2 linked regions of the Homo sapiens genome follow. The protein of the gene in region 1 purifies or fractionates together with the protein of each later gene. This does not show direct contact. Each region holds a gene or a part of one and is shown on either strand. Other genes may lie near its edges.

Region 1 (3,843 bases):
TTATTATCGGTTGTTGACACACAGAACACTGGACAGGGAAGAAGTCTCAGAATATAACATCACTGTAACTGCCACTGACCAGGGAACTCCTCCACTGTCTACAGAAACTCATATTTCACTGCAAGTGATGGACATCAATGACAACCCACCCACTTTCCCTCATGCTTCCTACTCTGCTTACATTCCTGAAAACAACCCCAGAGGAGCCTCCATCTTATCTATGACTGCTCAAGACCCTGACAGTGGTGACAATGCCCGAATCACTTACTCCCTGGCCGAAGACACCTTCCAGGGTGCACCTCTGTCCTCCTATGTCTCCATCAACTCCAATACAGGGATCCTATATGCTCTTTGCTCCTTCGACTATGAGCAGTTTAGAGACCTGCAGCTGCTGATGACAGCCAGTGACAGTGGAGACCCTCCACTCAGCAGCAATGTGTCACTGAGCCTCTTTGTGCTGGACCAGAACGACAATGTCCCTGAGATCCTGTACCCCACCTTCCCTACTGATGGCTCCACTGGTGTGGAGCTGGCACCCCGCTCCGCAGATTCCGGCTACCTGGTGACCAAAGTGGTGGCAGTGGACAGAGACTCAGGTCAGAATGCCTGGCTGTCCTACAGCCTACTCAAGTCCAGCGAGCCGGGACTATTTGCAGTGGGGCTGCACACAGGCGAGGTGCGCACCGCACGGGCCCTGCTGGACAGAGACGCGCTCAAGCAGAGGCTTGTAGTGGTCGTCCAGGACCATGGCCAGCCCCCTCTCTCGGCCACCGTCACACTCACTGTGGCTGTGGCCGACAGCATCCCAGATGTCCTGGCTGACTTGGGCAGCCTCAAGCCTTCAGCAGACCCAGACGACTCGGGCCTCACACTCTATCTCGTGGTGGCAGTGGCCGCTGTCTCCTGCGTCTTCCTGGCTTTTGTCACGGTGCTGCTAGCACTCAAGCTGAGACGCTGGCACAAGTCACGCCTGCTTCACGCTGAAGGCAGCAGGTTGGCAGGTGTGCCTGCCTCGCACTTTGTGGGCGTGGACGGGGTTCGGGCTTTCCTGCAGACCTATTCCCACGAGGTCTCCCTCACCGCGGACTCGCGGAAGAGTCACCTGATCTTCTCCCAACCCAGCTATGCAGACACGCTCATCAGCCGGGAGAGTTGTGAGAAAAGCGAGCCTCTTCTGATAACTCAGGATTTACTTGAAACAAAAGGAGACCCTAATCTTCAGGTGAGTCAATCTTATAATAGATCATACCACACTGAAATATAGACAAAGAGTTGTGTAAATGTCTCTCATTTTATATGTAATATATCAAATAAAGTTGCCTCTTTTAATATTTTATTGCTTTAAAGAAAACTGGTGGATGACCTTCCAATAATGATCAACAGTATTTACCACACAAAAATGTTGTTTATTACTTATCCTTTTTGGTCTTCATTCAGTTGTAGTTTCAGCCAGAATTTTCTAATTTTACAACTCTGAGCCACCTCATTTCCTTAAATTTCCTTTTCTGTGCTGGGTGTGGTGGCTCACACCTGTAATCCTAACACTTTGGGAGTGTGAGGAGGACGGATTGCCTGAGCTCAGGAGTTCGAGACCAGTCTGGGCAACATGGTGAAACCCAGTCTCTACTAAAATACAAAAAGTTAGCTAGGCGTGGTGGTGTGTGCCCGTAGTCCCAGCTACCCTGGAGGCTGAGGCATGAGAATTGCTTGAACCTGGGAGGCAGAGGTTGCAATGAGCTGAGATCATGACACTGTACTCCAGCCTGGGCAACAGAGCAAGCCTCTGTCTCCAAAAAGTAAAATAAAATAAAGTAAAATAAAGAATAAATTTCCTTTTCTCTTAGGTGTTCCTGAAAAGATACAAGAGACCTGTAAAATAGAAGGCAATTGTGTAAATTCACATTTACAATATTCTTTCTCATGAAGCTATTGTTGGATCTGGACTGAGGGTTTTTTAATTTCCTATTTTCACACTCTACCATGCTTTGCTTGAAGTTTACTTTTCCTTCCTTGAAAGGGTATTTTCCATTATAACAGGCAACGTCAATTTAAGAATACTGGCAATTTGTGAGTTTAACTTTTAGATATAACTTTAACAGGATATTTTCTCAATGAACTGGTATATTTCAAATATTTTCTTGTTGCTGTTCTGAGATGCACCAGAAGTGACTATGTGTGATTCCTCTGGTGCACTCCTGTGATTATGAGAAATATTTCCAAGCTAATTTCAGTCATATATAAGTAGATTCTAGGAGTAACTTTAATAATTTTTAAATTGCTTATCATGACATCACTATTGAGACTTTCTTGATTTCCAAGGAAAATATAAGTTTTTGGAGTCTTTTCTCTTGTCATCATGTGAGCCTCTTTCAAAGGTTGAGTTACTTGGGTTCTGGACTGATATGATTTACGCTGCTTAGTAAGGTGGCCTCATCCCTATTGCTACAAATTGCTTTCAGATATTTCTGTCATCATGTGGCTCTGGGATTATTTTATATGAGGGAAAATATTTTGTGTGTAGGGGATATACAACACTTTTGTTCTTTGTGCTTTCATTTAGGTTCTGTGAGAATTCAAAATTCATGAATGCATATGCTTACACAAATTAGTGTAATTTGATAACTGGAAGTTGTAGTGATAGACTGTGGAATATGCCTCAATTTGACTTACAAAGGAGAGTTTTAGTTTCTACATGGTTTTGTATTCATAGAAAGTTGTGGTGCAATACATAGAGTAAGCTGGAATATGATATGATGCAGTTACCTGGCTTGGGGAGCAGAAAGCAGAAATAACAAGTGAATGTTGAGAGACAACTTACATCTGAGGAGAGATTGTTTAAAGTAATTAAGCCATAAAATATAATTTGGAAATGCTCAATTGGTCTGAAACTGTGTCAAGCATATTCAGGTGTTGGCATTAGGAATATATTCCAGAATGAGAGTGCCACATGTTTTAAAGGCCTAGGAAAGCAGTAGATAATTTATAACCTAAAATCAAATTTTTTAAAAAATGTGTTTTTGTTAGAATGGGCAGTGGGTTTCTTTTAGCAAATAACAATTTTGATTAAACAAATTGTTGTATATTCATATTACGGACTACTAGATAACTATATTATGGGCCACTAGATAACTATAAGAAATAAATAGGAAAGCTCTCTATGTACTGATATGATCTTTAAGATATAACAACTAAAAAAGCAATGTGCAGAATATGGTATGTTGTATGCTTACATTTGTGTAAAGAAGGAGACAGAATATTTATAAAAATCCGTTGCCCTATACAAGACATATCTCCGGAAGGATACCTAAGAAACTTTAACACTCATTTCCCCTGTGAAAGCATTTCTCCTCATCTAAAGCAGAGATGAAAGGAAGAACCTATGCTGAATGCATCTTTTGAATTTGGAACTATATGAATATTTCACATATTTTAAAACAAATGAAGACTTTATAAATTAAAAAAGAAAAGAAAAGAAAAAAGTTCTTAGCAAATATTGACAAGCCATTAGTGCAGTTTCCTGAGAAAACCTCTGAGCGTCGCTGTTGGTCAAAAGAACGAAGAGAAGCGTTTGGGAGCCTCTTAGAGGGGAACTTCCTGCACAAACCAACCACACAGAGAAGGCCAGTATAGATTCGGAAACAGAAAACAAAAGCAGGAAAAGTGACCTTAGCCCGGATTCTGCCATCCCCGGAAGGCTTATTCCTCCTATGGGCAAAGGAGCAAAGGGAGCCAGAAGATGAAAGCGAGCTCAGGGAGGTGCGGGCTGGTGCGGTGGCTGCAGGTACTGTTGCCCTTCCTGTTGTCTTTGTTCCCCGGGGCTCTCCCAGTCCAGATCCGCTATTC
Region 2 (3,600 bases), on another chromosome or scaffold:
CTCCCAGGTTCAAGCAATTCTTCTGCCTCAGACTCCCGAGTAGCTGGGGTTACAGGCGCCCGCCACCACGCCCAGGTAATTTTTGTATTTTTAGTAGAGATGGGGTTTTACCAGGTTGGCCAGGCTGGTCTCGAACTCCTGACCTCAGGTGATCCGCCCGCCTCGGCCTCCCAAAGTGCTGGGATTACAGGCGTGAGCCACCGCGCCCGTCCGAAAATAATTTCTTAATATCAATGCAAGTGCAAAGTTAATTTTCCTAGCTAACACCTTTCACACCCACCCCCAATAATGACACTTCATCAATTCTTTAAAAGGGAAGCTCCTTAGCTGAAAACCTGCATTCCGCCTTTCACCTTTCCTGTTTAAGTGCATGCCTTTTGTTCAAGATTATATCCAGCCAACCAGGAATACAGGAAGTTTTAATAACGCCACAAGTCATGACGTTGCAATTTGAACAAGTCAGTTCGGGACACTTGGAACTGTTAAAACTGCCTGCAAGGCACCTTCTGACCTCTATGCTTTCGGGTTTGGAAACCACACAACCTGGGGCCACTTAAGAAGCCCTTTTCTTTCTGGGCCCTAACTATACTCTTCAATATCTGAGGCCCAGTCTCCTTCAGTTTCTGCTAGATAGATGACAGGTCTACTGCTTAGAACCTGTGGGGAATGTAAAAGGGATATAAGACATAAAGCAAGGAGCCCAGACGCCGGCTTTCTGCAGCCAGATCGTAGTTACATCTGACTTGGTCTGATTAAGCTATCTGACTTTTGCAGAGAACATTCACAGGAAAGACACATTCACAGGGAAGACACATTCCCTTTCCCAGGAATGTGCCGCCGCCCGATTTTTAAGTTAGAAGACTCTAAGGGAAGTCCGGACCGCTGCCTACTTTCCGAGTGGGGCTCACAAGCGGAATAGAGTCGGGGGCACACGCAGAGTGGAGCTGGCTCTGCCACCTAATTTTTAGAGGTGGAGGAAGATATTAGAAACAAGGCCAGGGCCGCCACCTGCTTTCTAAGGAGGAACTCGGGGCACAGGTTCATTCCCAGGGCCCCCACCTGCCTCCCGCCAAGGCGCTTGAGGCGAAGCACCACCCAAGGTACTCGGGTGGGGGGCGGCGCCCCAGCCAGCCAAACCTGAGCGCTTGGTCCGAGCTCTTCGCTCCAAGACCTTCCAGCTCACTTCTGCCGTGAGTCCCGCCGCCCCCGCCATCGCGCTCCGGTCGCCGCCTTGGCCACCGCCCCCGGGGCCGCCTGTCAGCAATGCCGGGCCACGCCCCCCGCACGACACTGTCGGGAGGCGCGCCTGCCGGAAGTGAGCGTGAGGGCGGCTTTCACCCTAGCTCCACTGCTTTTTTAGCGTCGGAAGGGCAGCCCTAGTGGGAGAGAGAAAAAGGAGCCGGCAGCGGCTCTTACGCGTCCCGGGGCTGCGCGCCACTCTCTCGGCCGGTAACGCGGTGCTTTGCGGCTGTCGTCAAGCGCGGCGTTGGGCCGGCGGGCGGGGGCTGAGGGGCTGCCATGGCGGCGGCGGGCCGGCTCCCGAGCTCCTGGGCCCTCTTCTCGCCGCTCCTCGCAGGGCTTGCACTACTGGGAGTCGGGCCGGTCCCAGCGCGGGCGCTGCACAACGTCACGGCCGAGCTCTTTGGGGCCGAGGCCTGGGGCACCCTTGCGGCTTTCGGGGACCTCAACTCCGACAAGCAGACGGATCTCTTCGTGCTGCGGGAAAGTCAGTGCTTGCCGGGCCCTCCCTCTGTTCGCTGTCCGTGTGCCTCTCCCGGTGTTCCCCAAACCCATTGCCCAATGGCCGGTCCTTCTGCATTTCCTGGTCCTTCTCTCCCAGCCCTGTGGCCTTCCCTTTAGCATTCTTAACAGCTTGTCCTTTTGCACCACCCTTTCCAACCCCAGGTTCTGACCCAGCTACCCTACAGTTTGACCTACCCTCAAAAGCCCTGACAGCACCTCAGTTTTGTTCCTAAGAAGTCTGCGGCCCTCACCCAGTCACCTTACCCCCTCCTCCCCATGGAATCACCTGTTTTCCAAAGTGCTTCCTGATTCCTAGGAATCTTTGTAGCTTGCCTCAACGTTCGCTCCCAAGGCCCACTCATTCCTTTCTATTTTGCTTCAGTCTTCCTTCCCCGTTGATGAACATGAAAAGGTGCAACCTGACAATCTCTTCTCATAGGGGGCTTCTTCTTGCCTCCCCACCTACCTAATTCGCCCACCCCTTTCTTTGTCAAGGCCACAACTTTCTATGAAGCGAATGTACCCTTCCAAGGGCCTAAACACTAAACAGCTCACACAAGCATTTTGCAGGGACCACTGATAAACCCAATGCCTCCTTGGGAAAGCAGTCTCAAACTACAGAAATTTCTCTCTTGAGCTGCCTGTTCTTTCGTGTACTCCTTCCTCATCTTGGTCATCACCTTAGTGTTCCAAATGTCTACTTTCTTTGCTAACTTGTTCTTGGAAATTCTTTGCTTTGACAATCGTTAAACTAACTTTTTTGTAAATCTTGATGCTGACAGTGGGCATTAGGGGGTCTTAGGGTTCTTGAGTACCTACAGAAGCAGGTGCTGCTTAAAGATCAATGCTGTGAAGGAAGGAAGGAAGAGCTACTCAGAGCTTGCCTGACAGGATCCTGAACCAGACTTCTTGGAGCCCTTGCGGGGATGCAGGAACCTCTTACAAACCCTGAATATTTTCCCAATCTTTTTGACTCCTCATTTTGCAGTGTACTGCCAAACCTGTTGCTGCTGTGTCCAAACTGGATACAGAGAGTAGCCTTGACTTTAAAGATGGCCTGTGTTTGATTAAACAATTCCAAAAGTCTGTCTCAATGAGTGCTAATTGAGCTCCAAGAATGTGTCACCCTCTGGAGGATGGCCCCATAGGAGGAGGGTCTTGGAGGATTCAGCATTTTGTGCTCACATGCTTAATTATGTCTTTGTCAGATATCTACAATGGGAGTCCCTGCATCCTTGGTGTGATGCATCTGTGTAATGAACCAAACAGCCTTACAAGGGACAGCATTGCTAGATTCGGGGAAGACAAGTCTTGACATGTAGTATAGTTATAAGGCATCTTTATATGGTTCTTTTAAGTCAACCAATCTGACTCCTCGCAGAATCCACTGGCTTCAGTTTCTCTTGATCAGCTGCTTTTTCCCATGTTCATCCTTTCTATTTCTCTGCTACTTTGAACATTGAACTTGTGATATAATGTTAGGCATCTCCATTGGACTAGTGGGACTATGCTTGAGAGGGCAGATGAACTGGAGTAGAATAAAAGTTTTCTTGTTGAGAACAGTGCCCAGAAACCTTCTTGTAACCACTGATTAGATATCTTATCAACAAACATTTTTCTAATATCATATATTTGTTTTCTTTAGGAAATGACTTAATCGTCTTTTTGGCAGACCAGAATGCACCCTATTTTAAACCCAAAGTAAAGGTATCTTTCAAGTAAGTACAAATATGATTATTTTGATAAAACTTTAGTCATTAATATAATAATGGATATGCAGTAGCTGATTGGTTGTCTTTAAAGTCAGCCTTAGTGTTGGGATGCAAAACCACTGTTTGTGAGGTATGAGTAGCAAGT

Evidence for each region. Proteins that work in one complex are often made in the same cells at the same time.
Region 2: the proteins of PCDHGB1 (region 1) and ITFG1 purify together in Homo sapiens (co-immunoprecipitation; 3 studies listed by BioGRID and IntAct, with this or other methods). This does not show direct contact.

Annotation. Positions count from the first base shown.
Region 1 is NC_000005.10:141,356,400-141,360,242, forward strand, and holds part of PCDHGB1 (protocadherin gamma-B1 isoform 1 precursor), read left to right. Parts: coding exon of another isoform or gene 1-1,264; exon of another isoform or gene 1,265-1,334; intron 1,335-3,594; exon of another isoform or gene 3,595-3,736; coding exon of another isoform or gene 3,737-3,843. Other genes in the region: PCDHGA4 (protocadherin gamma-A4 isoform 1 precursor), read left to right, coding at 1-1,222; PCDHGB2 (protocadherin gamma-B2 isoform 1 precursor), read left to right, coding at 3,737-3,843. UniProt on the Homo sapiens protein: Potential calcium-dependent cell-adhesion protein. May be involved in the establishment and maintenance of specific neuronal connections in the brain.
Region 2 is NC_000016.10:47,458,964-47,462,563, reverse strand, and holds the start of ITFG1 (T-cell immunomodulatory protein isoform 1 precursor), read left to right. Parts: upstream 1-1,500; 5' UTR 1,501-1,518; coding exon 1,519-1,726; intron 1,727-3,388; coding exon 3,389-3,461; intron 3,462-3,600. Other genes in the region: PHKB (phosphorylase b kinase regulatory subunit beta), read right to left, coding at 1,138-1,213. UniProt on the Homo sapiens protein: Modulator of T-cell function. Has a protective effect in graft versus host disease model.